Linked DNA regions of Homo sapiens. The protein of the gene in region 7 purifies or fractionates together with the protein of the main gene of each other region. This does not show direct contact. Each region holds a gene or a part of one and is shown on either strand. Other genes may lie near its edges.

Region 1 (4,143 bases), on a different chromosome or scaffold from region 7:
ACCAATTTAACCGGAATAGCCTGTGTATATGAGACATTGGGAACAATATTTAGGCAACCAAACCAAGTAAAACAATTCTATTTTAAACATATTTGTTCTAAAACTGAATTCTTTCATTTGATATGTTCCACAACATGATGAAAGCCGGACATTTATTCAAAGTAAAAAGAAACTCAATTAAATATCAGCTTCAATTTGAAATGATGCATGAACTGAGTATGATGGACCACCTGCATCATTTACCACTAGTTACCTGAAGAATACGATAAACATCTGGAATTCTTGTACTTTAAAACTATGCTTCTCATCTTAGCTAAATATCAAAATTTGAACATTGAGATTCCTGGGTCTGTCCCAGTCCTAATGAAACATAATCTCTGAAAAAATAGCCCTGACTTCTGTTTTCATTTAGTTTTTGCTTTACTGTGTTTTAATGCACCACTTTTTTTATTTTTTCAGACTAAATTTAAATCAACAAACTTTAAAACGGACAGTCGATCTTGACCTTACCTCTGGGTCAATTGCTGATGGATGACTGCACTGCGTGAGGGAGTCTGCATAATGCCAATTTATTTTGGCAACTTTCCCATCCTTTGGAGGTAATGCTTCAGCAATAATCACTTTATCCTGAGGTAGAATCATTCCACAATCTCTGGCCACAGAGACAGCAGTCAACATACTGTCACCTAATTTTCAAAATATTTTAAATGTATTGAAATTAAAATGGAAACGTGAACGTATCAAACATGTACTTGCTGAGAATCTACTACAGTCTCCATGACTGGGCTGGCAGAGTAACGATAATGTATGGTTCTTCCACTTACAGTTTAAAAATAACAAAATTGGAGCATACTTATCAAAAGAAGCCTCAAATAACGCAAGCACGTTATATGCTAAAGAAAACATCTCACCCACAATTTTTAAAGCCAAATATAATTCTCAATCTTTTCCAGTCATGCACTATTTGTATCTACACAATACCTGGCACGGTGCTACACACAGATCAGGTGGCTCAATAAATACTTACCGAAATAACTTTACAAAGTGACTAGTGGTCTGTGCAAGAACACCAGCACCATATCATAGAAAATGATGAATTACAAAAGCAAGATCATACAAAACAAAAAGGTAAGACAGGTAATAAGAACAGGTGTAAACGAGAAACAAGAGAGACAACTTCTCAGTCATGAGAAGAAAGAAGAGCAGCAAGAACAGGATCTTATTAAGGAGAAGCAGACAAAGGTTTGTGGATCCCACTGCTACCAAAACAGAAGAGCGAGATATTTCTTTCCTCAATTTCCACACACTATTTCCAAGAATATCTTCCTATGACCTTTGGTACACAAAGCCATATTCTGGCAAGGGGAAAATAAATAAATAAATAAAAGAGGAGGACGAGGAACAGGTGAAAAGTGTCTTGACAAAGAAGACGCAAGAACTAAGAATGGCTGGAATGCTAACAGACTTAGTTACCTTGAGTTATACGGTAAAATTATGTTATTAGATAGATCTCAAGAGTCTAAAACACAAAAATGTATACAGACTTTCTCCATATTAGTCTTACTGAACACGTAAGTGCCATTAAGTATCTTAAATCTGATTATCTGCTAAGAAAAAAAAACAAAAAACAGAGCTACCACAATTTCACACAGCTAATGAGTAAGAGTTATCTAATATTATCAACAGTATAGTAACATCAGGAGAATCCCTTAGATGTACTAGAAAAAAAAAAGTAGGCTATTTCACTAGAATTCAAGCTAGGGTAATAAACAATATCTTACATATAAACATTTCATGCTATCGAATATCTATTAATCATTTTCTATGTAGCTGACAGTTCTAAAAGTTGCAAAGGACCCCAACATGAGTAAAATATACTCCTAACCCTCAAGAATCTTATATTCTAGTACAGAAAACAAATCTACAAATAACACAAGGTACAATAAGTGCTATAAGAAATATACGAATAAAGAGAGAAAACAAAAAGGAGTCAAGTTTAAATTTTTACAGTGTACTTTTACTATTCTTTTTTTTTTTTTTTTTTTTTTGAGACGGAGTCTCGCTCTGTCGCCCAGGCCGGACTGCGGACTGCAGTGGCGCAATCTCGGCTCACTGCAAGCTCCGCTTCCCGGGTTCACGCCATTCTCCTGCCTCAGCCTCCCGAGTAGCTGGGACTACAGGCACCCGCCACCGCTCCCGGCTAATTTTTTGTATTTTTAGTAGAGACGGGGTTTCACCTTGTTAGCCAGGATGGTCTCAATCTCCTGACCTCATGATCCACCCGCCTCGGCCTCCCAAAGTGCTGGGATTACAGGCGTGAGCCACCGCGCCCGGCCGTACTTTTACTATTCTACTACACTTTCTATAAATAGGATTCGCTAGACCTCAAAAAGAATATGACAAAGTTATCTTGCGCTTGGGAAAATATTCAGAGCTAAAAGAGAACTTAGGTTGAAACCACTATAGACTATATAATATGATTTTATAACTGATTATCCCTCAATATAATATAACTTCAGCTCTGTCACACTCCATTTGCTTCTGTGTTCTTTTATAAAGTCTAACCTGTGACCATGACGGTGCGAATGTTGGCTTTATGCAAATCTTCAAGTACTGCAGGGGTTTCTTGCTTTAATTTGTTCTGCATTATAATTAATCCCATAAAATCCATGTTGTTCTCAATTGCATCTCTGCAGAAAAAGAAGTTTTAACACATAATGGTTTAGTCAATTGAGTAAGCAACTTATGTACACAAACTTGAAATATCTAAACAATTAAAAATGTCTATAAGTTATAATGCAGTTTAAAATATCTATAAATGAAAACATTTTATATGCTGAATAAACCACGTGTGTGTTCAAGAGTTCAGTATCTCAATATAATAATCATTTGGAAATGTATGTCACTGTACACTAAACAATTCTAATACTAAGGAATATTCATTTTGTGTAGTATCCAAAAATAAGCATAAATCTATTCTTTACTGCCCTCTACAACATATCCTAATTTAAATGTTAAGTGAAAAAGAAAAAACTGTGCCACAAGCACATTCAATACAGTTTTCGTGGATTCATTATCAAGTCTCAGATCAATTCTATAAAACAATTACTGATCCTGAAAATGTGACACAAGAACCATTAGCAATCCAACAATGAGATCTACTTGGGACCCAGAGATGGGTCTTTGAAAATATTACTAATATAGTTATCAAGATGCTATTCTTTAAATAACTGAGTATCAAGAATGCAGCAGGCACTATGCTAGTCACTGGGAGGTTAAAGACAAAAAGGGATGATCTCTGCTCTCAAGACACTTGGGTGGGGAAACAGACATGCAACCAAAGAGATGCACACAAAAATAGTACGTGCTTTAGCACTATAAAAGAGATGAAGTCTGTTCAGTGATAGTTACGTTCTTAAGAAATCTCAGGTCAGGCATTGTAGCTCATGCCTGTAATCCCACCACTTTGGGAGGCTGAAATAGGAGGATTGCTTGAACCTAGGAGTTTGAGGCCAGCCTGGGCAGCATAGTGAGACCCCGTCTCTACAAAAAATGAAAAAACAATTAGCTGGGCATGATGACATGTGCCTGCAGTCCCACTACTTGGAAGGCTTGAGGAGTGAGGATCATTTAAGGCCCAGGTGGTCAAGTCTGCAGTGAGAAGTGTTTGTTCCACTGCACTCTAGCCTAAGCAACAAAGAGAGATCCTATCTCAAAAGAAACAAACAAAAAAAGAAAACAAACAAAAAACACCTCAACCTACCTGAATTATATCATAGAAATTTTTTTCTCAATGGGGAAGGAGGAGGGTCTGAGGTCAGAGACTAGAATTTCAGACTTGGAATAACCAAATGATTTTTCTGACAAAATTCCAATAAAAGTTGCTTGAAGTATGTATCTATGAAATCTAAAATCTTTGAAACACCTAATTTCTAACAATGGGTGGTAAGGATATTAGAGAATAGTTGAGAAAATTAATATAAATGAAACTGCTGGTTTTAACAGCAGGAAAAAGCCTTGAAACCTGAAATTGTATTTCAAAGCCCAAAGCTGTATCAATGTGAAGACAATGTGTCAAAAGCACTAAGCCGCTTTCCTTCAGGCCCCAGTTTCTGGCTTCAGCTCGTCTCCTAACTCTCTCAC
Region 2 (4,645 bases), on a different chromosome or scaffold from region 7:
CCTCACCCGCACCCTCATCCTCACCCGCACCCTCACCCTCACCGTAGCCTGAAGGGCCAGCAGGGGCCAGAGAAGGCAGCAGGGTCCCCAGGACCAGGTTGTTCTTTGTAGTCCCAGTCTGCTTCCTCTGCAGAGGCCCACAGGAGGACACGCCCAGAGTCTGTTGTCCCAGCAGCAGGGCCAGTTTCCTCCTCACACCCCTGGCAGGGCCAAGGCTCAGAGTCACCCAGAACCTGTTAACCTAGCATGTGAGTTACTGGCACCTCCCTCCCTGTTCAAGGGGTGCAATCCCCACGTGCCCATTCCAACAAGTGGGCAAGACCCAGATCCTGCCTGAAGTCAGCTGACACTCAGCAAGCTCACTGGGGGGCCAGACAGTGGTCCATGTCCCAGAACGAAGGCAACAGCAAGGTCTGAGGACTGTCCCATGTCCTTGTCCAAAAGCCAACAGTGTGCACCTTGCCACTTGCAAATGAGGCAGTCATGTGGCTCGTGAGGGAACGTTTTGTGGCCTCTGTCCACAGCCCGCTTGAGGAAGCAGGAGGGCTGGCCTGGCGTGGCTCTCTCCCAGAGCTCCAAGGGCCCTGCTCCCTCCTGCCCCCAGCACCAGGCTGCACGTTGGCTTTTCTGTGGCTCATCTCTGACCACCTACAACCATCTGCTGGGGAGAGCACCAGGACCCAACACGTTCCAGTGGACGAGTCCAGGAAGCCAGGAATGTATATTGGCTCAGCAGTACCCACCCCAGAAATGGATTAACACTCATGGAGACATCCGGATCGAAGACCTTGTAGGCACAATACTAAGCTCGATGAGTTAACTTTTCATTCTACAATGGGCTGAGAAAAATTTTGCCATTTGGAAGTCAGACCGACCTGGAGCCAAAACTGCAATGGGGCTTGGTCAAGCCAAGGGGCCCATCAGAGCCCCGAGGAGAGCCGGCCTCTCTGGGCTTAGTCTAGCAAGGAGAGCATGTCCATCCACCTGGCCACCCTTCACCTGGCCCAGCCTGCCCTGCCTGCCACGTGCCCAGCCAGCTCTCCACCATGGGAGGGACTTGCCCAGCACCTGCTTTAGGGGCCACACCCAGTGAGCTACAGATTAGGTCACGGCCACTCGGGAGGGAAGCTCCCTCATGAAGAATTTTCCAGGCACCACCTGCTGACCTTGCCCAGCAGGAAGGCAGGACACAGCCTGCTGAGGGCGGTCAGGGCAGCCTGGCTGTGGTCAGCGTCCAGGTCTCACCGAGTGGCCGGCCTCTGCCCTGGCTCCCTCCAGCAGCACAGAGGGAAGTCGGGCTGTGTGGTCTCGGCCCGAGCAACATCCTACTGGTGTCCTGCGATCACTGACAACCCAGAACAGACACTCTGGCCCAGTAACCGCAGGCCCAGCTCTTGGGACGCTGTTCTGGGTCTCCGGCCTGACCCTGCAGTCGCCTTTTGCCTCTTTAAGAACAGAGTCGTAAAACAGGAGCCCAAGCCTGGATCAGACAAACCTGGAGTCAGACCTCTTCAGCACTTACAAGCTGTGTGGCCTAGAGTCAATCACTTAACCTCTTGGTGCCTCAGTTTACTCATCTATAAAGTGGGAGTGATAATGGCCACCTCGTGGGGTTGCTAGGGACTGAATGAGACGATGCTCAAAGCAGGGGTACCATGCCCGGCACATTCCAGCACTCAACACCTAACCCCTGCTGTCACTGTCCTTGTCATTATTACCAGATTCACAAGCGGAGCCGGCTAAGGCCAAGGAGCTGTCCTCTGAGATCCATTTGCTCCCGCTGCTGGGAATGAAAACGTCGCTGACACCGGGCTCTGCAGAGCCAGTTTCTGATTAGATGGAGGTAACCCAAGTTCCAAAAACCACAGCTGAGGAGCAGCAGCTGACAAGCTGGTTGCATGGATGTGGAAAACTACCGCGTTCCAGCCGCCTCCAGACAGAAACAGGACGCATAGCCAGGTCCCACGGCAGCTCCAAAGAGGGCCTTGCACGCCAAGCGGGGCACCCCCCAGCCTGAGGGTTCACCAACCACGCGGACCACGCGGAAACCTAGCTGGGCTTCTCTCTCCCCTCGGGGCGCCAGTGCGGGAGGCGGTTTCTCCCTTGGAAGTGGAAGTCAGATCTGCTTCCAGGTTCCCGGTCTAGGGCCGGTCTAGGGCAGCTAAGCCTGCCTGCTCCTTCCTTTCCATCCTCCCTGGTCAGGGGAGCCCAACAGCAACGCGAGGGCACCCGACCCTCTGCCTGCACCTGGAGGGCGCCCGGGTCCCCCCAAGCCACGGCCAGGACGTCGCGTGGTGGGGCAGGGAAAGGGGCGCCGCCGCTGCTGGAAACTAGCCCTGTGCGCTCCGCCCGCGCTCCCCTCCCGGAGATGTCTCGAGCGCCTCTGGCGCGAACAAAGCCCGGCCGCCCCCGAGAAACTTCCGTGCATGAAGGTTTCCTCCTTGACTCGGCAGCAGCGGCCGCCGCAGGTGGGTGACTCCGCAACTCTGGAGCTCCGCGGAGGCGCGTTCGTCCCCAGCTGGATCTGTGGGGCCTGCGCCTGCGCGCGCTCCGGGCCACCTGCCCAGGTCACCTGCCCCGGCCACTCCGACAGTCCCTGCCAGGGCCGCAGCCCCTGCTCACCCGCTTCCCCCCGGCACCCGCTGCAGCGTGGGGCCCCTTCGCCTCGGTCCTCCTGCGGGCGACTCGGGAGCTCCTACCTGCGCAGCCGGCGGCGGGAAGCGGCGAATTTGGCCTCCGATTCCGCTCGGTCCTGCCCTCCCCCGCGGAGAGGCTCGGGGCGCTCGGCCGGTGCCCAGGCCTCCCGCCCCCGCGCGCATCCCCCCGGCGCTCCAGCCCCTGCCCACGATGGCGGCACCTGCCGCGCTCCTACGCCAGCAGGTCGGGCCCTGTGCACCCGCGCCAGCTCCCCGCTCCCCGCGCACTCACCGTCCCCGTCTCGAGGGCCCGGCCGCCGCGCCGCGCAGCGCTCCACGCTCTGGCCTCCCCGGCAGCCACGCGCCGCTTCATTCATCCGCTGGGGCCGCCCCCGCCGCAGAGGGAGGGGCGGGGTTTCCTGCGCGGGGCCCGCCTCACCCCCCACGGCCAATGGCAGCGGCGACCGCCCCCTCCTCCCCCCCAGGGCACAGAGGCGGGAACGCGCGGCGGGGGACCAGGGCGTCTCTCTCCGGAGCGCTGCCGCCTCCTGGACTCCCCGCTCCAGCTCCAAGGACCGGCATCGCTGCCGCAGCCGGGAGGCCGAGAACGCGCGGTGGCGACGCCGCCCCAGGCCACGCGGCGAGGCGGTTCCGAACGGACTCGGGATTCGCTCCTGGGCGCTGTGGGGCCGAGTGGAGCCAAGCGGCCGTTTTTCAGCTCCGCCCTTCCGAAAGGCTGCCGCAGGGTCGGGGCCACGTGGGGCCCGCGGCAGAGGGGCTGGGGGAACGCCACGGGCGGCCCTGGTGAAGGTGCCCGCCGGTCTCGGCCTGACCCCCAGGCCCTGTTCTGGCACGCGCCCCACCTGCGCGCACAGTGAGACCGGCGCCCTAGCCTGGGAATCCGGGGAATCTCCAGCCCGTTGCCTTTTCCATAACCCCGTCTTCTTTTTCACACTAGCTCTGAGGGTGGAAGGCAGGGAGGTGCCAGCCACGTTCCCTTCCACAGAGGGAACTCCCTGTTGGAATTCCTACCCCGGCTTCCTGCCGTCTGTCCTGGAACACATTGCTCCAGGCCTCCGAGCCTCAGTTTCCTCGTTTGCAAAATGGGGGCGATAACAGAGCGTCCTCAAAGGGGATAAGACGGAAGAAGTTGGCTCATATCAGGGCTCATAATTGTTGCCAAGTATTAACAGGTAACCACAATCACACTCCACAAAGCTTCCCTTTTAGTGTCAGTGAAATTAATTTAAAAGAAGTTTCCGAAAGTCAAGTGTGTGTGTGTGAATCCTGAGATAAGTCAGGTAAGGGGGGAAATGACCACCTCACGGCCCCAGGCTGGTGAGGAAGTCCTAGCCACGGAGGCGGTGCTGCAGGACCTGGCCTGGTGGCATAGCGTGGCGGGCGGGTTCACCGTGGAGAGACGAAGGAGGTGCTGCGGCTTGTGAGAAAAGGCCCACAACCCCATGCAGTTATTTATGAAATGGTTTTCCTTCCTCCAGGGCTTGGGGCTCCTGCCCACTCGTATCAGGTCCCGGGACCCCCCCGGTGGTGTCCTCAGGGCTCCCGCCGTCCCAGGCCGCCCTCCACTTCTGGAAGCAGACACGAGGCCACGAGACCCACTGCTTTTGGGTATCTGCTTTCATTCCTGACACTGCCCTTTAAGAGAAAAAAGTACCCACATTGTTCCCAGATGGAGAGGGTCCCTCCCAGAGGGTGAGGCACTGCCACAGGGGCTCACGGCCCTGCCAGGAGTGGAAGGTGCACACCCAGAAGTATTTCTCCTGTGAAGGAAGGGGGCTGAGCTTCGCTGCAGACCTGGCCTCAGGTGTGGATGAGCTTCGCTGCAGACCTGGCCTCAGGTGCGGAGTCTGCGGGAGCAGCATTTCCAGGCAGACCTGACAGAAGGTGCCTTTGAGAGGTGGTGAGCTCCGTGTTACAGGAGGCTTGTGAGCACAGGTAGCCCATCTTCTGGTGATGATGCTGGAGAAGCAATTCAAATGTCAGAAGCA
Region 3 (4,143 bases), on a different chromosome or scaffold from region 7:
GAACACGTAGTCATCTAATTATATATTATCAAGTTACAATTATTCAGTTACACATTTATTATCTCATATAAGGAACATCAAGAGAAGCTCACGGGCCAGGCACAGTGGCTCACACCAGTAATCCCAGCACTTTGGGAGGCCAAGGTTGGCGGATCCCTTGAGCCCAGAAGTTTGAGACCAGCCTGGGCAACATGGCAAAACTCCACTTCTACAAAAACAAAACAAAACAAAAATTAGCTGGGCATGATGGCACATGCCTGTAGTCTCAGCTACTTGGGAGGCTGAGGCAGGAGGATTGCTTGAGCCCAGGAGGTGGAGGTTGCAGTGACCTAAGCCCACACCACTGCACTCCAGCCTGGGGGACAGAGTGAGACCTAGTCTCAAAAAAAAAAAAAAAAAAAAAAGAGAGAGAGAGAGAGAGAGACTCAGGAAGAATGAGCCCAAAATAGGGAAAGATCACAACCCCAGCCAGACGATGGGGAACCCTATGTCCTCTGGATCCCAAGAGAGGATGTGCTAACCAACTTTCCCCTACCCACAGCGGGAGCACCAGCCATTTAGCCTGCAGTGTGAGGCTGTGTACAAAGCCCTGAAGATGCCCTACCGAATCCTGCCTCGGCAGCTGCCCCAAAAAGAGCGTCAGGTGAGTCTAGGGCCAGAGGACTGGATGAGGGAATACAGGGCTCAGAGTGCTGGAACAGGGCTGGGACTTGGGTGAGGGCTGGCCTTGGTATTGTTAACAACTGTTGAGAATGTACTATGTGCCAAGCACTGTGCAGATGCCAGAGACAGAGTGGTAAGCAAGATCAACATGGTATCTTTGCTCCTGGTGTTCACAGTCTCGTGGAACAACACAGTGTTCCAAGTGTGGTGATATTTATGAAAACACATAATAGGAACACCTGAACCCAGTCTAACTGGGTCAGGGAAGGCTTCCTGGAAGAAGTGATGTTCAAGCTGAGACCTGAAGAATAAATAGGAACTAACCAGGCTAGCCATTCAGGAAAGGGATATCCTGGGGAGAGGTGAATAACAGATATGAGGCTGAGCGCAGTGGCTCACACCTGTAATCCCAGCACTTTGGAAGGCCAAGGCAAGTGGATTGCTTGAGCTCAGAAGTTCAAGATCAACCTGGGCAACATAGTGAGATCCTGTCTCTACAAAAAATACAAAAATTAGCCAGATGTGGTGGCGCATATCTGTGGTCCCAGCTACTCGGGAGGCTGAGGCAGGAGGATCGCTTGAGACCAGGATGCAGAGGTTGTAGTAAGCTGAGATCACACCACTGCACTCCAGCCTGAGTGACAGAGTGAGACTCTGTCAAAAAAAAAAAAAAATGGATATGATATGAAAGCCCGAAAGTAAGAGACAATATTGTACATTTTAGGAACTTCAATTTTTAAGTTCAGAATGCTGTTAGTTCAAAATAAGAGGTGGAGTTGATCTGGAACCCAGACTCAGACATTGGCACCTAATCCAGGCAGATCCAGGACTATATTTGGGCCTGCTCCAGACCTGATCCTGGAGGCCCAGTTCACCCTGATTTAGGAGAAGCCAGGAATTTCCCAGGACCCTGAAGGGGCCATGATGGCAACAGATCTGGAACCTCAGCCTGGCCAGACACAGGCCCTCCCTGTTCCCCAGAGAAAGGGGAGCCCACTGGGCTCTGCAGATCCAATGACAAGTGGGGGCCAAGTATAGGGTAGAAAGAACTTCTGAGCTTTCATTGACTTCACCCAACTTGCTCCCCAGGTGGCCACAGCTGTGCAATGGACCAAGGCAGAAGGCAGCTATGGCGTCCCACTGTGGATCATCATCCTAGCCATCCTGTTTGGCCTCCTGCTCCTAGGTCTACTCATCTACATCCTCTACAAGGTCAGCCACATCCTGCTTGTGACTTGGCCACCCTCTCATCAGGCTCTGCCCTTGACCTGGCACAGTCCCAAGTATCTACCTCTAGACCAGTTCACCAGCCATGTGCCCCCACCTCTGTCCTGGCTACATGCATCCCATCCTAACCCTTCCTATAAGATCCCCCCCTTCATTCTATAGCCCCTAGCTTAGAAAGGGTCCTCTTGACTCAAGATGATAAGTTTGCCTATACTTGCAAAATCATTGGAACCCAAAGATGACAAATACGTGGCATTTGTGCTGTCAATTTCTCCAAAAATCCATGGCAGCCATCACTAACCTAGAAATGGCTACTGATCATCTCCTAGAAGTGGCTTCAGAATCTCTCTCAAGAGGCAGCCATGGCCAGGTGTGGTGGCTCACACCTGTAATCCCAACATTTTGGGAGGCCAGGGTGGGAAGACAGCTTGAGCCCAGGAATTCAAGACCAGCCTGGGTAACACACTAGGACCTTGTCTCTACAAAAAAAACACAAAGATTAGCCAGGTTTGGTGGTGCGTGCCTATAGTCCCAGCTACTCTGGAGGCTGAGGTGGGAGGATCGCTTGAGCCCAGGAGTTTGAGGCTACAGTGAGCCATGATCATGCCACTGCACTCCAGGCTGGTCAACAGAGTGAGACCCTGTCTCAAAAACAAACAAACAAACAGAAGCAGCCACTACTAAGCAATCAGACTTGGCATTTGAGTTCAAACCTATCTGCCATTTCTGGCTTAACTGGGGAATTTTAAAGGCACTGGTAAAAGATACCCCCCATACAAAATCACCCCCAAGTTTGGTCCTCCTGGGTCCATTGCACAACTTAGAGGGGTAGTCCTAGCCTGAATTCAGAGGCCACTTTTGCAGGATGTAGAGGTTGGAGGCACTAGAGTCCTCCTTATTACTTCTTGGAATAAGAGCTGTGGAGAAATGGCAGCCATAGTACCTAAACTCTCCCTCTTTTCCCCTTTATCAGCTTGGATTCTTCAAACGCTCCCTCCCATATGGCACCGCCATGGAAAAAGCTCAGCTCAAGCCTCCAGCCACCTCTGATGCCTGAGTCCTCCCAATTTCAGACTCCCATTCCTGAAGAACCAGTCCCCCCACCCTCATTCTACTGAAAAGGAGGGGTCTGGGTACTTCTTGAAGGTGCTGACGGCCAGGGAGAAGCTCCTCTCCCCAGCCCAGAGACATACTTGAAGGGCCAGAGCCAGGGGGGTGAGGAGCTGGGGATCCCTCCCCCCCATGCACTGTGAAGGACCCTTGTTTACACATACCCTCTTCATGGATGGGGGAACTCAGATCCAGGGACAGAGGCCCCAGCCTCCCTGAAGCCTTTGCATTTTGGAGAGTTTCCTGAAACAACTTGGAAAGATAACTAGGAAATCCATTCACAGTTCTTTGGGCCAGACATGCCACAAGGACTTCCTGTCCAGCTCCAACCTGCAAAGATCTGTCCTCAGCCTTGCCAGAGATCCAAAAGAAGCCCCCAGCTAAGAACCTGGAACTTGGGGAGTTAAGACCTGGCAGCTCTGGACAGCCCCACCCTGGTGGGCCAACAAAGAACACTAACTATGCATGGTGCCCCAGGACCAGCTCAGGACAGATGCCACACAAGGATAGATGCTGGCCCAGGGCCCAGAGCCCAGCTCCAAGGGGAATCAGAACTCAAATGGGGCCAGATCCAGCCTGGGGTCTGGAGTTGATCTGGAACCCAGACTCAGACATTGGCACCTAATCCAGGCAGATCCAGGACTATATTTGGGCCTGCTCCAGACCTGATCCTGGAGGCCCAGTTCACCCTGATTTAGGAGAAGCCAGGAATTTCCCAGGACCCTGAAGGGGCCATGATGGCAACAGATCTGGAACCTCAGCCTGGCCAGACACAGGCCCTCCCTGTTCCCCAGAGAAAGGGGAGCCCACTGTCCTGGGCCTGCAGAATTTGGGTTCTGCCTGCCAGCTGCACTGATGCTGCCCCTCATCTCTCTGCCCAACCCTTCCCTCACCTTGGCACCAGACACCCAGGACTTATTTAAACTCTGTTGCAAGTGCAATAAATCTGACCCAGTGCCCCCACTGACCAGAACTAGAATCTGTGATCTCATGTTACTCTTTCCAAACCCATCCTGGAACCAAGCGACTTGGTGGAAAGCAGATGCCTATTTCTCTCATGGCTTCTTTCCACTAGGAGCCAGAAGTATGACCCCCCAGAAACTGTGAAACTAGTTCTAGGCTCCCTTCTTAGGTGAAAGAGGT
Region 4 (4,143 bases), on a different chromosome or scaffold from region 7:
CTTTTGTTTTTCCATGTGGGGCCTGAGAAGTACTACTTCCACATATTCCTCGTAATAGAAGTTAAATTCTTGAAAACGGCTTTGCTCTCCTAGCAAAATCTTGCCTTTTGCTTACAGGGTGAAAGAACTATTACCTCTCTCTAGGAGGTTCACTTCTAGACCTGGATGAAGCCTGCTTCTGTTCAGGCCCCAAGGCTTGCTGCGAGGGCTCAGCCCCTTTGCTCCTGTCTGGTGGTGCGCTGGGAGGAGCAGCATCCTGGGAGGAGGCAGCTGCTGTGCTTAGGGGTGTCTGAGACCGCGATCGCTCTTGGAGTCGTGCTTTCTTTTCTCTTGGTACCTCAGAGCCAGCACCTGTAGCTGTATCACTCAGGGTTCCATCCTGACTTGTCTGCTGAGGGCCACTTCCAAAGAACCATGCCCCAGATTTGGTTAAGATTTCTTGTTGCTTTCGACATAAATTGCATACCCACATAACCTATTTGAAGAAGAAAGAACAATATAAATTTTTATGCCCTCTTGGAAATAATTTTTCAGTATCTTAAAATATATTTAAGAAAAAAAGAACAGTATTCATTTTCATATTTATCCTTGCAAATTTCTTGTGAAAATGGTCCTCCCACAAGTCACAGTCAAATATATGAATGCCTAGACAGGGACTTGTCTGAGACTAGAGAGCCTCTCAGCAGCCAGAGTAGAGGTTTTTTCTCAGCATTTCTGATTTGATTATTCTGAATTTCCTTTTACCATATATCTGTCATATTTTTTATAATTGACTCTGGAGTGTTAGCAAAAATGTTCTAAGCAAGGTAGTTAACTGATTAGAAAAATGTTACCAGGAAAAAAAAAGAAAAATGTTACCAGGAACTACAGAATCAGTACGTAAATACATAAACCTCAGTACTTGCAAGTATTTTTAAAAAGTCTGTCTTTTCAAAAATCACCCACAATTAAAGGCAATATTAAAAATATTCACATAGAAGAAACATACAAAGTAAGCACACAAAAAAGGTCAATGTGTATATTTTCTCTAGTTTCTTAGTGATAAACTAACCTTAAGCTTATTTATGCTATAAAATATAATTTTCCATGCACATATTTACTAAAGCAATAAATGTGACTCTGAGTTTATTCATATGTGACCACTCCAATGTAATGTTCCCCAAGGAGAGCTATTGGGGAACCATCATTTAGCAACATATCCACTGATAAATTATAAGATGTAGCACCACTTAAAATAAACTATATGTCTGTTCTCCATTTGATGACCTTTAAAATGAATGTAATAATGAGGACGATTATCATAATAAAAAATAATAATAGCAGCAATGACTAGCTGTCACAGGGCAAAGATAGGTGCTAACAGCTCCATGAGCTGTCTTTTCAAATATCCTCAGTACCTCTGTTTCTTTGTGCTGTGACTTTACATCGCTGCCTCAGTTACATGCCTCCAAAAGCACTTCAGGTGTTTTGTGTTTGTTTCTACTTCAGAAACTACCTCCACAGGAAAAACTAATTACCAAACTCTAGGCTTCCTTTTCACAAATACTGACTCAATCAACATGTACTCAAAAATATTGCATCAGGATGAATAAATCGTAGAAACATTAACTGATAAGTAATAGAAAATAGTAAAAGAAGCATTGTTTAGTAGGTCAAATGAAGAAAATGAACTACTGAAAATATTCAGATAAATGGGGAAAAACTGTAACTGTAGCCATAGAATAAGATGAAGCTAAAATAAGAATAAGAAAAAGACAGGAAAAAAGTAATACACTTTTTTAAAAGGAAAATACTGCAGGTGAATTAAGAACTGCTTTCCAGGAAAGAAAACTCAAATGAATTATAATATAGGAAAAATTAAGACTGAAGAGAAATACTTGCTATAAAAAATTTAAAATTCATGAAGGTTAATTGATTTATTTAGACTTTCCCAGTCATAAAATGAAGTGTACTAGGTTCAAAAAAGCAGTTAGGTATAATGTCTACACAAAGTATTATAACCAATATTACGGAATTCTCATCTACTAAGATGTCAAACAAGATGAACAATTCATTGCATAAACCTATATCAAAATAAGGATTTTATGGAAAGTAACTTCAATTTAAGTGCTAGCCAAATAAGGGTATATTTTACAAAATCTATTACTGAGTAGGTCCCTCAGAAGTCCTGATTGTTTGAACATGGACATATTAAGGGTAACATTAAAAGGTGCAGTACTCCAGGGCCAGGACCTTCATGAACAGTCAGTGACACTGAGTCTCTTCTGCCCAGAACCCTGAGTGGGGACAGGACGTGTGTGGTGGGAAGGTTTTGGTTGGTTGGTTTGTTTTTTGTCTCTTTAGCTGACAGACCATAATAAGAAAGTTTGAAATCATGTAATTCAACAAGACTGGTATGAAATTTTGACTATTTTACATCAAATAAGAAGACGTTAAATTTGTATTTCTCAGACTAATAGTAAGCAACTTATTATCATCATTTAAAGTAGGTTCTTTTCAGCCAGGTGTGGTGGCTGACACCTGTAATCCCAGCACTTTGGGAGGCTGAGGGGAGCAGATCTTCTGAGGTCAGGAGTTCGAGATCAGTCAGGCCAACATGGTGAAATCCCGTCTCTACTAAAAATACAAAACTTAGCCGGGCATGGTGGTGCATGCCTATAATCCCAGCTACTTGGGAGGCTGAGGCAGAAGAATCACTTGAACCCGGAAGGCAGAGGTTTCAGTGAGCTGAGATCCCGCCACTGTTCTCCAGCCTGGACGATAGAGCGAGACTCCATCTCAAAATAAATAATAAGAAATAAAATAAAATCAAGTAGGTTCTTTTCTACAGAAATATCAAGGTATACTTAGGATAAATATGCAGTTTTTAAAAAACCAGAAAACACAAATTTACAATTACAAAGTTTCTAAAATTGAATAAAGCTAAATAAAGAAGCAGAAAGGAGCACAATAATACTGATGAAGGGTAAAGGATACTCTTCATTTTACATTTGAATATTCTCTAGAAATTATTATCACAATCTTATTTTGATTGCTTCACATTTTTAAACGTTACAAAAAATGGGTCAATGAGAACTAACTGCCAGATTTGGGCATGTTCCAAATTTTGAGTATGTGCAGAACTGCTACCAGATCAATTAAAAGAAACACAATTTATTATTATTAAATAAGTTGAATTTTACAATTTAATTTCATTTCCAGTTTATTCAAAAGGTTACAATTAGTGACTATGTCAAAACAGCATAGGCATTTTAAATTCTATTCTTAAAATACTTTGTATTCATTTAAGTCTGTGATGCTTTGTTAATTTTTTTGTTTTTAACATTTAGTAAAATACTGTATAATTCCAAACTTTTTCTATGTCTTATTTCCTTGTACACCACAACATTTTTAAATTTGTATTTTTAAATTAACTATAAGTGTAGTCAATCCATCCTCCAAACTGAAAGTAAAATTAACCATGGCAATGTTAAAATATTTATTTTTATCAAAATATCACCTCCCAGTCTCTATTTTCAGTTCTACAAATTAATCATACCACAAATTTTACAAATAAAAAATAAATTGCTCATATAAGTTATAAAGAAAAATATATAAGATTACAATAGAATATTGTCATACATTTCAACACAGTTAATACCAAACATTGCAGACCTCTACAGTACATTTTTTGAAGTCAGTATTAAGTATTATATTTGCCTGAAGCTATAGATAATACAAGAGTGCTGTAGGGAGTCATTTTTAACAGATTTTTTTTTAGAAAAGAGGATAAGACGTAACTTTGCCTACAAAAAAATGCTATTTATTTAAAGCACACAAACACACCTTTTAGAAATTGCACTATGCAGGATTATACCCTGATTAAATACCCTGGGATGTGTTCCAAACTAATCTAAACTAAAGTAGGCCTGTGCAATAACTTATCTTAACAATTTACAGATGTTAAGCAATCACACACAAACTCAATTCAAATACTATCGTGAAGTTACATGACTTTTGAAACACCATGCCACATATCAGAAAATATGCAGGACTGAAAATTGTATTCTGACCTTTTGCTGTAACTGCATTTTTAATTGTCTTTTCCTCTTAATTCTTAAGAAGTACAATAAACTATTTTATAAAACCCATAGGAATTTTTTA
Region 5 (4,143 bases), on a different chromosome or scaffold from region 7:
TCATGCCCAAGGCTTGGCACCTCCAGGCACCCCATGCCATTAACCTTCCCCACATCCATATGGACAGCAAACTCCTAGATCAGGGAGAGACCCCCAGGACTAATCCCCACAGTCAGGAGGGGGAAGGGGTGGGAGGGACTGTGCCCATTTTACAGAATGGTGACACTGAGGCCTGAAGTGGGCCCCTTCTCCTGGCTCAGAGGGCAGCCCATGGGGCTGCTACAGGTTTGGTCTGCTGTTTTGATGAATCATGGGTCCTCTTGACCCAGGAGAATCAACGGCAGGTCTGATCCAGCCTGTGCCAATGTCTCCCCACAACCTCCTCCATCCCCCCGCCCCAGTCACGCAGCCGAGCCTAGCTTGACCCATTCTACTTTTCCCTCTACTTCTCTTCCTTCAAGTTAGCCAGAGGCTTTAGCGGGTGATGGAGCAGAAACCCTCCTAGCCCCACCCAAAGGGGACCTGTGTACTTCCTGCCAGTCTCACTCGGCCTTGCTGCTGTCCTCTGAGACTGCCTATTCCTCCCTCTCTGTGTCTGTACACCACCGTGACCTCCTCCAGGAAGTCCTCTGGATTGACTCCTAGCTTATTACATCTTAATTCTGCACACCCTCTCCATTTGAAGCCCCTCTTCAACTGCCCCCCCACCACCTCCAAGACAGGGATTCTGAGTTCTTGCAACTGAAGCCCCTCAGAGAGTGTAAGAGGGGCAGAAAAAAGGAGACCAGGAGGTGGAGGGAGTGGCGCTGTCAGAGTTTCCAGAGCCCTGGCCAGCAAGGCCTCAGAGGCCTCTGTTGGGGTGGGGGGCTGCCTGGCCACGCGCTCCAGCAGCACAAGACAGCCTGTGTGAGCCCCTCCCGCTCAGCCCCACAGGAAGCAGCAGGGCCCAGCCCCTCAATGGACCCATTCAGACCCCAGCGCTCTGGAAAGTACCTCTACTTCCTGCCACCCTCCCACTCTGGCCAAACAGGCTCTACTCTCCTCTGCTGGGAGGGGGCTGCAGGCAGGTGGTTCAGTGGTTAGGGCCAACCATCTAGTTCAGTTCCTGCCTGGCCCAGAGCCCTGATGTTGACCATGACTTGGCGGGTCTACATATACCTTTAGTGCAAGGGTGGGTAGGGGCAGGGACATGTGCCCCCTTCTCTGTGGGTGCTGGATAGGTAAATGTTTAGCAATGGGCTTTCTTGGGGAGGGGGAACCCTGATTTGCAGTATTTGCCTCTTTTCCTGGTATAAATGTTCTCACTGTGGGCAGTATCACCTGGCTCTCAAAATTCCTGAAAATTCAACAGTAGACTCCTGGCAGCTGCTGTCAGCCGCTCCAGCAGGTGACGGTGGTGGCTCTATCCTGCAGGGCCATGTGCCCCCACCCCTTGTGCTATGGCCTCCCTCACTTTAGTGTGCTGTGTTTTGCTCTTAGGAATCAATGTCTTTGCAGATAAGGCACCCCGGTAGGTGGCCGCCACCTGCAGTTCCCTGGTCTGTCCCTTGCTGGCGCCAAGCTCTGCTGAACCAGCTGGGCCGCCCCCGCGCAGATGGTCTGCAGGGCTCCCTTGATTCCCGTAGCTTCCCAGACAAGGTGCTGGTATTGCCAGCAGTGCTGGCAGGAGGAGATAACTAGAGGGGATTTAACTCAGCCCAAGGGGTTCTTACGGGATCTTTCTTGGACATCCCTCCCAGTGGGGCTGGCTGCCCTTAGGGTGTACAAGTCTCCGACTCCTCCAACGGCTGAAGCTGCTTACTCAGGCGGATGGCAGCTGGCTCAGGCTGGCCAGGGACCAGCACATGGGGCTGGTGCCGGATTATCCCTATCAAGGCCGTCAGCCTGTGCTCGCTCTCGGGTTTGAGGGAAGCCCAACAGGAATGAATCACCGTTTTTAACCCGTGTTTCTCTACCCCCCAGCCCTGGACATCTGCAGGCAAAGTCAAAGTTATATTTGGCTCTTATCACCACAAAAGGCATGGACCAGAAATTGTGGCAGCGGGTTGGAAGTCAGGGAGGCTAATCTGGGGAAACTGACTGGAGGAAGCAGCAATTCAAAAGAGGAGGAGTCCCAGTATGGGACAGAACGGGCCCTGCATAGGAACCACTAACCCCAGGCAAGCCCAGACATGGCCTTCTGCCTGGGGAGGCCCTCTTTGGCCTGCCCAGCAGACCCTCAGCCCCTCCCAAGCCCTGTCTTCAGCCTCAGCCTGCGTGGTGGCCTGGGGAAGTTAGGAACTCAGCTGTTCTCATCCCTGGTTCCTTGGCCACGGTGGAAACAATGGGGCCGGATCTGACTGCTCATCGGGGACTGTGAATAGCTCTCCAGCAGGAAGCAATAGCAAGGGTAATGGAGGAAGTGTGGGCCCACTTTGGTTTGACACTGCACATGGTCCCCATCTGGCCTCAGAGCCTTTGCTCCTTGGCAGACTCAGGCCAATAAGCTCCTGCCCCGACGCTCAATGGCAGCTGGAAGAATGGCCTGAGAGAGAAGCGGGGATAGGTGGGCCATGCTGACACCACCCCCAGATCCCAGTCGTGGCCTCAGCCAACCCATGGAGGCGGGGCATGGCACAGCAGGCGCTGCACAGGAGCCCAAGCACAAGGGCACTTAGGAGAAGGAATCTGAGCAGGGATCAGTCTGGACTGGGGGTGATTCTCCAGAAACTCCATTCCTTGGGGCTGTGACCACCAAGCCAGATGGTCAGGCCAGTTGCGGTTCCCTTTGGGCTGGGTCCAGGAGCCAGACCCACGAGGGAGACTCCTCTGGGGCCCAGGGGAGGCGAGTCAGAGCTGGCGGAGGCCTCTGGCTCCAGGAACCTCCAAGGAGGAGACCTGAGTTGCTGGGAATTTCTGGGTCTGACCTCCTGTAAATACAAGATCTGGGCTGGACACAAGGTGAGCCTGTGCCTTCTGGTGCCAGGACCAAGAAGATGCTGGGACCCGGGCAGTGCTCAGAGGCAGCACCATACAGCAGAACCATGAGGGTGCGCCAGCACGGACCCCTTTCTGCAACCCACCCGTCCCTCTTTGCGGCACCTCGCCTCCTCCAGGCAAGAGTCTGAGCCTTGACCACAGCTCCCTCTCTCACACAGCTTCCTTCTTCGGTGAGAACCACCTGGAGGTGCCTGTGGCCACGGCTCTGACCGACATAGACCTGCAGCTGCAGTTCTCCACGTCCCAGCCCGAAGCCCTCCTTCTCCTGGCAGCAGGCCCAGCTGACCACCTCCTGCTGCAGCTCTACTCTGGACGCCTGCAGGTGAGTGACGTCCCCCTGAGATCTGGGCGGGATTCGGGGTGGGATTCCTTCTCTAGCTTTGAGTGAACCCCAGCTGGCTGTGTGACCTTGTGTAAGTCACTTTTATCTTGGGGTCTTAAGTTCTCCACTGTGGGATGGGCAGCAGCAGCCCAGAAATGGTAAATCCTTCATGAACTGGCTCTGCCCACTGGCTCCCTCCAACCATGTTTCCCGCCACAACCCCTCGCTGGCCCTTTGTGCTCTGACAGCCCTGAACTGCTTTCAGTTCCTGGCCATCTTACAGTCGCTTGCTGCCAGGCTCTTGATGCACACTCCTTCTGCCAGGTGTGCGCCTCTCCCGTTCCCTGCACATGCCTAACTCCAGCCTCTCCTTGAAGTCTCAGTGTGGGCATCCCCTCCTCCTGGGCTAGGCCCCCTCCTGAGCCCCCATGACCCCTGTGCATCCCGGTGGCACTGCACCAATTTCTCTGCAGCACCATGGTCTGTCCACGACAGTAACAGCACCAGTACTGCCTCAGCTTCCTCATTTTTCCATTTCATCCTTCAAGACACCACAAGCTTTGTTAGCAAGGAGTCTTGTGGCTTTTTTGAGTCTTCCCCTAAACCATGAAGAGTTTAAGAACCCAGGGTCTTATTCCGAATTTGTGCCAGGCTGGGTGCAGTGGCTCATGCCTATAATCCCACCACTTTGGGAGGCCAAGGTGAGAAGATCACTCGAGCCTAGGAGTTCAAGTCTGGCCTAAGCCACACAATGAGTCCCCATCTCTATTTTTAAAAGAAAAAAATAACCGGACGCGGTGGCTCATGCCTGTAATCCCAGCACTTTGGGAGGCTGAGGCGGGTGGATCACCTGAGGTCAGGAGTTCGAGACCAGCCTGGCCAACATGGTGAAACCGTGTCTC
Region 6 (4,143 bases), on a different chromosome or scaffold from region 7:
ACCCATTTCTTCAGTGTTGGCAGTGGGACAAGTCTATATGAGGGACACCCCCATTCTCTACCCACAGGGTCACCAAATGAATCTAATCTCCTTCCATGGGTGAATTCACTTAATTGTGGCTGAAATTCCATGGTCACCCTTCACAAGGGTTGGTGAGGGGCAACCTCTAGCTTTCCTGACAGTCATCAGGTACTAGTGCTCCTTCATCTTGGGTTGGGACAAAGGGCAGGAAGGGGCAGGCGGACCCCACCCGCCTTCACACCACCAGCTGACATGCCTGTTTCCAAGAGGGGCTTCATGATTTCCAGGGCTCAGCTGAGAAAGGAGCTTCAGGCAGATAGAACAGCCTGCAAGCTGGAGGGGAGGGAGTCCCTTCCCCAAATCGCACACCTGCCTGACAATGTGGCCCGCAGATAGGACCTGAAACCCATGCTCTCCACGACCCTCCTAGCTCTGCAGCTTCAGGGAGAGCAGCTCCAACAGTTGCAGGACTTGATAGTTCTGAATATGCAGAAGAAAGACCTTTATACCTTGAGCATTTCCATCTTCTCCTACCTCCCCCAAGAACCAGCCTTCATTCCATTTCCTACAGAAGCTCTAGAGGGCTGACCCTTGCCAGAATCTTGTTGACTGCCTCTTGCCCCAGTCAACGCAGGATGCTTTTCTCTTGGATGTCTACAATGGGCTTTGGGGGCTGGGTGGGGAGGGGTCTACCTCGCAGTGGTAACACTCCACGTGGTAGTCTCTGTCCATGGACACGACACGGATGGTCTCATCTGAGCCCTGGGACCAGAGAAAAGCAAGAACACATAGGAGAGGCCTGTTAGGGGGGCTGTCGGGCTTGATGTACCGTGGGGTGGGGAGGGAAGAGGGTTTTGGGGGTAACAAGTAGGTGGCCTTGGGAGGAGAAGGTAAATCAGGAGTACTTACTGGAAGAAGAATACATTTAAGCTGATGAGAGGGGAAGTAGGAGGGATAGGAGTCCTTCCTTCTAGAATGTCAGAGTTAACACTGAAAGAAAGACCTACATGGACACTTATTTTAAAAAATGAAGAAAAGACAAGCCTTTCTCCTCATCTGCTAATCTAAGAATTAGTATCAAGTAAGGGAGTTTGACCTGGTTATGGGGACAAATCAGCACAAGAAGGGTACTGGGTTGGGGAAGCCAGTCAACAAGGAAGGGTGAAGACACGACTTATCTCAAAGGTGAAGTGGGGTTTTTTTTGGTTTTTTTTTTTTGGAGACAAGGTCTTGCTGTCACCTGCTGGAATGCAGTAGCACCATCATAGCTCGCTGCAGCCTCAAACTCTTGGGCTCAAGCAGCTAGGACTACAGGCACATGCCACCACACTTGGCCAATTTTTAACAATTTTTTGTAGAGATGAGGTCTTGCTATGTTGCCCAGGCTGTTCTTAAACTCCAGGCCTCAAGCAATTTTCCTGCCTGGGCCTCCTAAAAGGGGTGGGATTACAGGCGTGAGCCACTGCACCAGGCCAGAGTTGAGATTTTTAAAAGGATACCTTAAAAGCTGTAAGGACAGGACATGGATCTTGTAAATGAGCCCAGGGAGATATTCATGTCTTAGAAGCCCCTGGGAGCATGTCTGGAAGGGCATCTTACCTCAGGTGGAAGGATGGGAAGCCCACAGGCTGCACACTTGGGGGCCAGCACCCTGTGGGGAGAAACAAAGCAGCAATAAATGTTGCTTCTGGGAGCAAATTCCAGAGTCAGACTTGCACTTGGAATCCACATGGAGCCTTCCTCCATGCCGCCTCCTGCCCCTTGCTCTCCTCCCTCATAGAATGACTGGTACCTGGCTCACTTTGTGGAATATGCCTTAGTATTTGCTCCCCAGCTGCAATGAGGACACTGGCTGCCTCTCACTCTTCTGGGGACAGCACTAACTGATTTGTTTACACCTCTCATGGTGCCTAGCACAGGCCCAGGCAAACCAAGAGTGGTAGGAACCAGCACTGCATAGGGGCCTTGTGAAGTTAGGTAACGCTGAAGCCACAGGGCTTGGTGGATTCCTCCCGAGGCCTAGCTACAAATATGATTATTAGTTTTTCTGTGCTCTGTTGTTTTTTTTTTTTCACTAAACATGATTCTTTAACCCATTCCTGTCAACACTGGCATCGACCAACCTCCCAAGGTCCCTGCTGTACCCCTCAAAACCATTAAGCCTTTGCTGGACTGTGATCTAAGGGCGGCTGGCAAACACAGTTTTGTCGGTTTCCACCACTCACTCTGCTGAGATCAGCTTGGCCTACACGAATGGGTCCTGTCTGCTCCCATCCCTTCTTACTTGTGGTAATCTCGGACACAGTAGATCTTGTTCTCTGAGTCCACGGTGAAGGGCACCCCATCCAAACACTCATTACAGATGACACAGCGGAAACAGCCGGGGTGGTAGGACTTCCCCAGGGCTTGCAGGATCTGGAGCAGAGACCAAGACTCAGTGGGGATTATAGGGAAGGATGAGATGGTGGAAGGGGAGAGGAACACATCAGGCCTAAGGATTACATGAGCAGTCACACACAGAGTACACTTACCCCCGAGTTTCACCTAGGAGAAGAGCAAGAGGTGATGGGGTGGGAAAGGCAAATCTGTTTAGATGAATACACAGAAGAGACCACACAGGAATCCTTCTCCTGCAGCCTCTCACAGGGTCTCTGAGCTGGCAGGGAAAGAGGGCTCCTTTCCAACCCTCACCCAGAACAGGAAACTCTTGCATAGTTCTTTAAGAGAAAGAGATGGTAAGGAAGGGATGGGCCAATCCCAGGGCCAAAATCCACCACGAAGAAGTGGGAAACGATGCAAAGCAGGGCCACAGAAGGATACATCCTTCCCAGATTTGGGAAGCAGCAAGTACTCGGAAAAATGAAAAGAAATTCCATGTGGAAATGGCAGAGCTCAAAAGGAACCCCTTCACTTCTGCCTCTTGGATGCCCCTTCTATGCAGCTTTGACTCTGGAGCATGATAATCTAGAAGTTCTGACTCAACCCAATGACCTCAAATCCAAGTGTAATAAGTAAAGTTTCTCTGTTGTTGTTTTTAAACGCAATAGAGGGAAAGCCCCACAAACTTCTTCCTCTCAGTGTCATTTAATCTGGATCTGGATGGGATACCTGGAACTGCCAGAGCCAACCTGAAACCAGGACAGACCCAAGACATGGACAGCAGGAAAGAGAAGAGATGGAAAGAACATCCTTGGTGAGGTCCGTAAGTAACTGAATTAACTCATCATGGAACCACATACCTCCAAGCCTCTTTTTAGGTGAGATAAAATATCATTCCTATGAAGTCAGTGGTCCTCGAAATGTGTGTGGCCCCAGACCTTCAGCATTAGCATCACCTGCAAACTTGTTAATAATGCACATTCTTGGACCCCATCCCAGATTTCTTGAATCAGAAACTCTGGGGGTAAGGCCCAGCAGTTGGTATTTTAATAGGGTGATTCTGATATATATTAAAGTTGGAGGATCATTGGTTTAACTCGAACTGAGTCTGGGTTTTTTCTATAATTTGCAGTTGAAAGCATCTTCACTGACTTAATAGGAGATTCATTTCTGCAATTACCTGCATCATGAAACTTAGCAAAAACAACTGAACTACAGAATCAACATGAGCAAGGTCACACCAAAACATGCATCTGCAAAGAATGTACAGAACGGTCATCAGCATCCAGCAGTGGGAGCCCACACAGAAAGCCTTCAAACAGGCTGAAGAAAGGGGATTTTGGATTTGGGGAAGCCTTGTCAGTACACTGTGAGACCCAGGGGTAAAGATATGCTGTGTTACAGCTCCTTCCCCTGGAAGCCTCAGGCGGATAACTCCACACTGCACAAGCTCCAGCCAAGAAGGCAAGAGGAGGGCGTTGTGCTATTCCAGCTTTCCTCTGAATGCTCAGCTTTCAAGCTTCCTCATTCCCTCTTGGGTTTCCCTAACCTTTGAGGGCCCTCTCAATCTGCAGTAAGGCAAAACAGGAAGAACAACTGGCTGGGCTTCCAAAACCCATTTGGCAATTTGGACCTTGGAATGCATTTTCCCCAAGATGAATGCTGTCTTGGCAGAAAGAGATCCTTAAATTAATTTAATCCACATTGTGCCTAAAGTAAGATTAGAAAAAGATGCCATTTTGC
Region 7 (4,143 bases):
CACTCTTGTGCCTTCCCTCAGGCCCAAAGCTCCTGTAGACTCAGTCTCGTGACCCCAGAGGTGAACCAGGCCTGATGTGCTGGTGTCAGGTGGATGGTTTAATGAGGGGAGGAGAGTGGGGCCCTGGGAGTGGGCTGACCTTCTTGTTTTCTGGCGGTATTTCCCTGGAACCATCCTCAGGAGTGGACACAGTAGAGCTGGACACTTCCACTGATCCGGAGCTCCCGCAGCTGCTCCAGGGCCTGCTGGTTCATGCTGGTGGCCCCCAGCCCCTGCCCATTGAGCGCCAGCTTCAGCCCTCCCTCCTGGAACAGGAGCAGCACCTGGGAAAGGAGGACATGAGGGGGTTGCAGCTTCCAGCCAGACTTTCCCTTGTCTGCCTGACGCTCTCTCCAGTGAGACCCTCCTCCTCTCATAGGACACGAAGACTGGACCCAGGGGGCACCCAGTACAGTGCTGGAAAAGAACAGGATAAGGGGCCCGGCTTGTCACCAGCCCACTGTGGTCTTTGACAAGGATCTTCCCAGCCTTGGGCCTCAGTTTCACCACCTGTAACTGGGGCTGCTTCCTGTAGAGGAGTGGTTCTGCACGTCGGAATCATTAGGGGAGCTTTTTAATAAAGCTGATGCCTGGGCCCCCCCCCACCTGCATCAATTGAGTTTCTGGCCATGGGATCCCTGGCATCAGAGTGGAGCGTTGAGGACTGCTGTACAGACATTCGCTGTGCTCTGCTGGCTCTGGCCTCCCACCCCATAACATCTGTCCTGCACACCTGCCCCAGCATCTCCCAGGTCATTATGGGACTTCAGCTCTGTGCTCCAGCCTGAAGGGATGTAATCATTTGGCTCTGACCTACCTCAAAGAATCTCTGGGGGTAAAAGAGGAAGGGGGCTGAGATCAGTTTCTTCTGCCCCCAGCGGGAGATCCAGGCCAGAGTTCTGTCTGCGAAGGAGGCCCTGAGTGTCACAGGAGCATGGGCAGCCTGGTCCCTCAGGCTCACAGTAAAACTGCAGGAAGCAGGAGGAAGGAGAAGGAATCAGCGCCCATTGCCCATAGGCCGCTGCTCAGCCCCCAGGGGAAGGATGGAGGTCAGGGAGTGGATGGAAGGTTGAGCTGCTTCAGCCTCCAGAAACAAGCACTGAGGGCCTATGACAGCCTCATGGCTGAATGCTCAGAACAGTGGAAAGAACACGAGTTCTAGATGAACTTGAGATTGACCTCCAGGGTTGCCATCTATGACTACAGGAGGATGGGGGTGGGAGGGAAGTGTGTGAAAATTGCCTAGCCTGAGCTTCAGTTTCTCCTCCTGAAAATGGGGATGATTATGATGATGATAGCTACAGCTAACATTTATTGAATGCTAACTAAGTGCCAGGTATTATCTTAAATGTTTTCCAAACAGCATAGTGGTTAGAGTCAGGCAGTCCCGATTCAACCCTGGCTCTGCTACTTTCTAGTCCTGTGACCTTGGGCAAGACTCTTAATCTCTCTGTGCCTCAGTTTCCTCATCTGTAATGTGACGATAACATAACTGCCCTGTACCTGCCTGTGGCATTGTTGTAAGAATTAAATGAATACATAAAAAAATGCTTATTTAGAATAGCACCTGGAACGTAATAAGCATTCAGATGATACCTATTGTTTAAAAATATTGCTATATAATACAATCTCTACCTCATAGAGCCAAAAAAAAAAAGGAACAAAGGAGATAATGTATGTGAAAACTAGCAATTCCTAGCACACAGTAGGTGTTTTACAGAAGCTAGTTTGCCTTTCCTTAATCCTCACAAATTCTGTGCTGTGAGGTTTGTCAGCCCATTTAAGTGATGAGGACAAGAAGTTAAATGACTTCTCTGTTACTAGTAATAGTGGTAGGGCCTTAGGTTAGGATGTGAACTAGGATTCATGACTCTAGATTTGGGGGTGGGGGGATCTGGCACCTGCCTCTCAAATAGGGCAACCGGATTATATTATTTTTCTTTATTTTATTTTATTTTTTTGAGACAGAGTCTTGCTCTGTCACCAAGCTGGAGTGCAGTGGCACGATCTCGGCTCACTGCAACCTCTTCCTCCCAGGTTCAAGCAGTTCTCCTGCCTCAGCCTCCGGAGTAGCTGGGACTACAGGCGCATGCCCGCACCGCCCAGCTAATTTTTGTATTTTTAGTAGAGATGGGGTTTCACTATGTTGGCCAGGGTGGTCTCGATCTCTTGACCTTGTGATCTGCCCACCTTGGCCTCCCAAAGTGCTGGGATTACAGGCTTGAGCCACCGCGCCCGGCCCAGATTATTTTTATGTCTTGGGAACTTCCCAAGTTTCCTTCTTGAAGAGCTATGCTGGAGAAGGCGCGGCATCCTGATGGGATGCAGAGGCAGGTAAGGTAGGGGAAAAGGCCGCCCTGGACAGGCCTTTCAAGGGCTATTGGTAGATCCTTACAGGAGGAGGCCCCGTAAGTTTCCAACTTTGGGAAGGAGGTGGCCAGGGCCCAATGTTGGGAAGAAGCTTGGAAGGCAGGAACCCTGGAGAGTGGACTGCGTGGAGCCTCCAGCCCCACTATGGCTCCCCCTACCCCGTCCTGCCAGACAACACTGTGTCTTCCTCTGGCCTGCGAACTCCTGGTGAGGAGGCCTCAGTGTCTCCCTACCTCACCTTCATGCAGCTCAGCCCGCCAGATCACTGGATAATCATGAATCACTAGATGCCCACTAGATCACTGAATAATCACAAATCACCAGATGCCCAGTGAAGCTCTGTTGAAGCTCTTTGAGGCTGCAGTCATACACTCCCACTCAATAACGAGGAGGGAAGGGATGAGGTGAAGAAGGAGGGATAGATTTTCACTGCAGATGAATCCTGTGCCCTCCATCTCTTACTCTCTCTGCCCCATTCAAGCCATCAGTTGCTTTCACAAAATAGCAGCAGCTGCATTGGTTGCAGCCTCGCTAAATACCAGGTGCTGTGCTAAATCTTCATGTTGGTGGATCTCGGCTGAACTGGTGTATAGGAATGTTTTGTCTGGTCCATAGTATTCTTCAACTTTAATATAATATTCAAAAATTGAGAGAGTTTATATAAAAGATGGCTTCTATTTTTGCTTTAAAAATAGTCAGAAGATCTGGCATGACTGGGTGTATGGAGATACTCCTTCCCCTTTACCACCTTCCCAACTGGTTTCCTCACTATTTATGAGACCTGTCTGGCCTCTGAGGACACATGCATTCATGGCCCTTGGGAAACAGCAGTTACTTGCTGACTATGTCACTAGTAACCTTGTGACTTTGAGCTACAATATGAACCCGGTCTCATGCCTCCAAGTTTTGTGGGAAGAAGTGTTCCATCACTGAGCACTTTTCATTTTCCCTAGCAGGTTGGAATTATCATTCACCTTTTTCCGGTAGGGAAACTCAGACTCAGAGAGGTTTAGTGACTGGCCCACGACCGCACTGTTTATAAGAGACAAAACCAGGAATCCAACTCAGTCATGCCTGTCTTTGGAGGCCGAGGCCATCGAGTGCTGGGCTTCATGCCTGTCCCAGAATTCACAGGCATGATCGGCAGTGTGCAGGGCAAGGGTTTAGTGAGGTCAGTGACTTAAAAATAAAAACAAAATTAAGCAAGGAGAACATAGGGTGCTTTCCTTACTCTGCCCTCCCCTACCTCCACTGAGATGATTGCAGTAGTACCCACATTTGTGGACACTTACCATGTACCAGGCACTATTCTAAGTACCACCCCTAAAGTCGGCATTATTATCAACCCCCTCTATCTTTTTTTTTTTTTTTTGAGATGGAGTCTTGCTCTATTGCCCAGGCTGGAGTGCAGTGGCGCGATCTCGGATCACTGCAACCTCTGCCTCCCGGGTATAAGCGATTCTCCTGCCTCAGCCTCCTGAGTAGCTGGGATTACAGGCATGCGCCACCATGCCCGGCTAATTTTTCTATTTTCAGTAGAGTCAGGATTTCACCATGTTGGTCAGGCTGGTCTCCAACTCCTGACCTCGTGATCCACCCGCCTCGGCCTCCCAAAGTGCTGGGATTATAGGTGTGAGCCACCGCGCCCGGCCTATCATCCCCTTCTTACAGAGAGGAAAACAGAGGCACAGAGAGGAAAAGTATCTGTCCTAAGGTTGCACAAGTAGGTGTCCT

Evidence for each region.
Region 1: the proteins of LGALS12 (region 7) and ATP13A3 purify together in Homo sapiens (affinity purification with mass spectrometry; one large-scale study listed by BioGRID and IntAct). This does not show direct contact.
Region 2: the proteins of LGALS12 (region 7) and SLCO4A1 purify together in Homo sapiens (affinity purification with mass spectrometry; one large-scale study listed by BioGRID and IntAct). This does not show direct contact.
Region 3: the proteins of LGALS12 (region 7) and ITGA5 purify together in Homo sapiens (affinity purification with mass spectrometry; one large-scale study listed by BioGRID and IntAct). This does not show direct contact.
Region 4: the proteins of LGALS12 (region 7) and RIMS1 purify together in Homo sapiens (co-immunoprecipitation; one large-scale study listed by IntAct). This does not show direct contact.
Region 5: the proteins of LGALS12 (region 7) and CSPG4 purify together in Homo sapiens (affinity purification with mass spectrometry; one large-scale study listed by BioGRID and IntAct). This does not show direct contact.
Region 6: the proteins of LGALS12 (region 7) and LIMD1 purify together in Homo sapiens (affinity purification with mass spectrometry; 3 studies listed by BioGRID and IntAct, with this or other methods). This does not show direct contact.

Annotation. Positions count from the first base shown.
Region 1 is NC_000003.12:194,431,207-194,435,349, forward strand, and holds part of ATP13A3 (polyamine-transporting ATPase 13A3), read right to left. Parts: intron 2,691-4,143; coding exon 2,566-2,690; intron 687-2,565; coding exon 511-686; intron 21-510; coding exon 1-20. UniProt on the Homo sapiens protein: ATP-driven pump involved in endocytosis-dependent polyamine transport. Uses ATP as an energy source to transfer polyamine precursor putrescine from the endosomal compartment to the cytosol.
Region 2 is NC_000020.11:62,640,837-62,645,481, reverse strand, and holds the start of SLCO4A1 (solute carrier organic anion transporter family member 4A1), read right to left. Parts: upstream 2,980-4,645; 5' UTR 2,929-2,979; intron 1-2,928. UniProt on the Homo sapiens protein: Organic anion antiporter with apparent broad substrate specificity.
Region 3 is NC_000012.12:54,395,097-54,399,239, reverse strand, and holds the end of ITGA5 (integrin alpha-5 precursor), read left to right. Parts: intron 1-541; coding exon 542-643; intron 644-1,752; coding exon 1,753-1,875; intron 1,876-2,863; coding exon 2,864-2,947; 3' UTR 2,948-3,979; downstream 3,980-4,143.
Region 4 is NC_000006.12:72,175,907-72,180,049, reverse strand, and holds part of RIMS1 (regulating synaptic membrane exocytosis protein 1), read right to left. Parts: intron 476-4,143; coding exon 135-475; intron 1-134. UniProt on the Homo sapiens protein: Rab effector involved in exocytosis. May act as scaffold protein that regulates neurotransmitter release at the active zone.
Region 5 is NC_000015.10:75,692,168-75,696,310, reverse strand, and holds part of CSPG4 (chondroitin sulfate proteoglycan 4 precursor), read left to right. Parts: intron 1-3,077; coding exon 3,078-3,241; intron 3,242-4,143. UniProt on the Homo sapiens protein: Proteoglycan playing a role in cell proliferation and migration which stimulates endothelial cells motility during microvascular morphogenesis. May also inhibit neurite outgrowth and growth cone collapse during axon regeneration.
Region 6 is NC_000003.12:45,670,983-45,675,125, reverse strand, and holds part of LIMD1 (LIM domain-containing protein 1), read right to left. Parts: intron 2,437-4,143; coding exon 2,306-2,436; intron 1,673-2,305; coding exon 1,621-1,672; intron 784-1,620; coding exon 715-783; intron 1-714. UniProt on the Homo sapiens protein: Adapter or scaffold protein which participates in the assembly of numerous protein complexes and is involved in several cellular processes such as cell fate determination, cytoskeletal organization, repression of gene transcription, cell-cell adhesion, cell differentiation, proliferation and migration.
Region 7 is NC_000011.10:63,512,427-63,516,569, reverse strand, and holds part of LGALS12 (galectin-12), read right to left. Parts: intron 3,589-4,143; coding exon of another isoform or gene 3,582-3,588; exon of another isoform or gene 2,245-3,581; intron 1,008-2,244; coding exon 857-1,007; intron 324-856; coding exon 177-323; 3' UTR 1-176. UniProt on the Homo sapiens protein: Binds lactose. May participate in the apoptosis of adipocytes.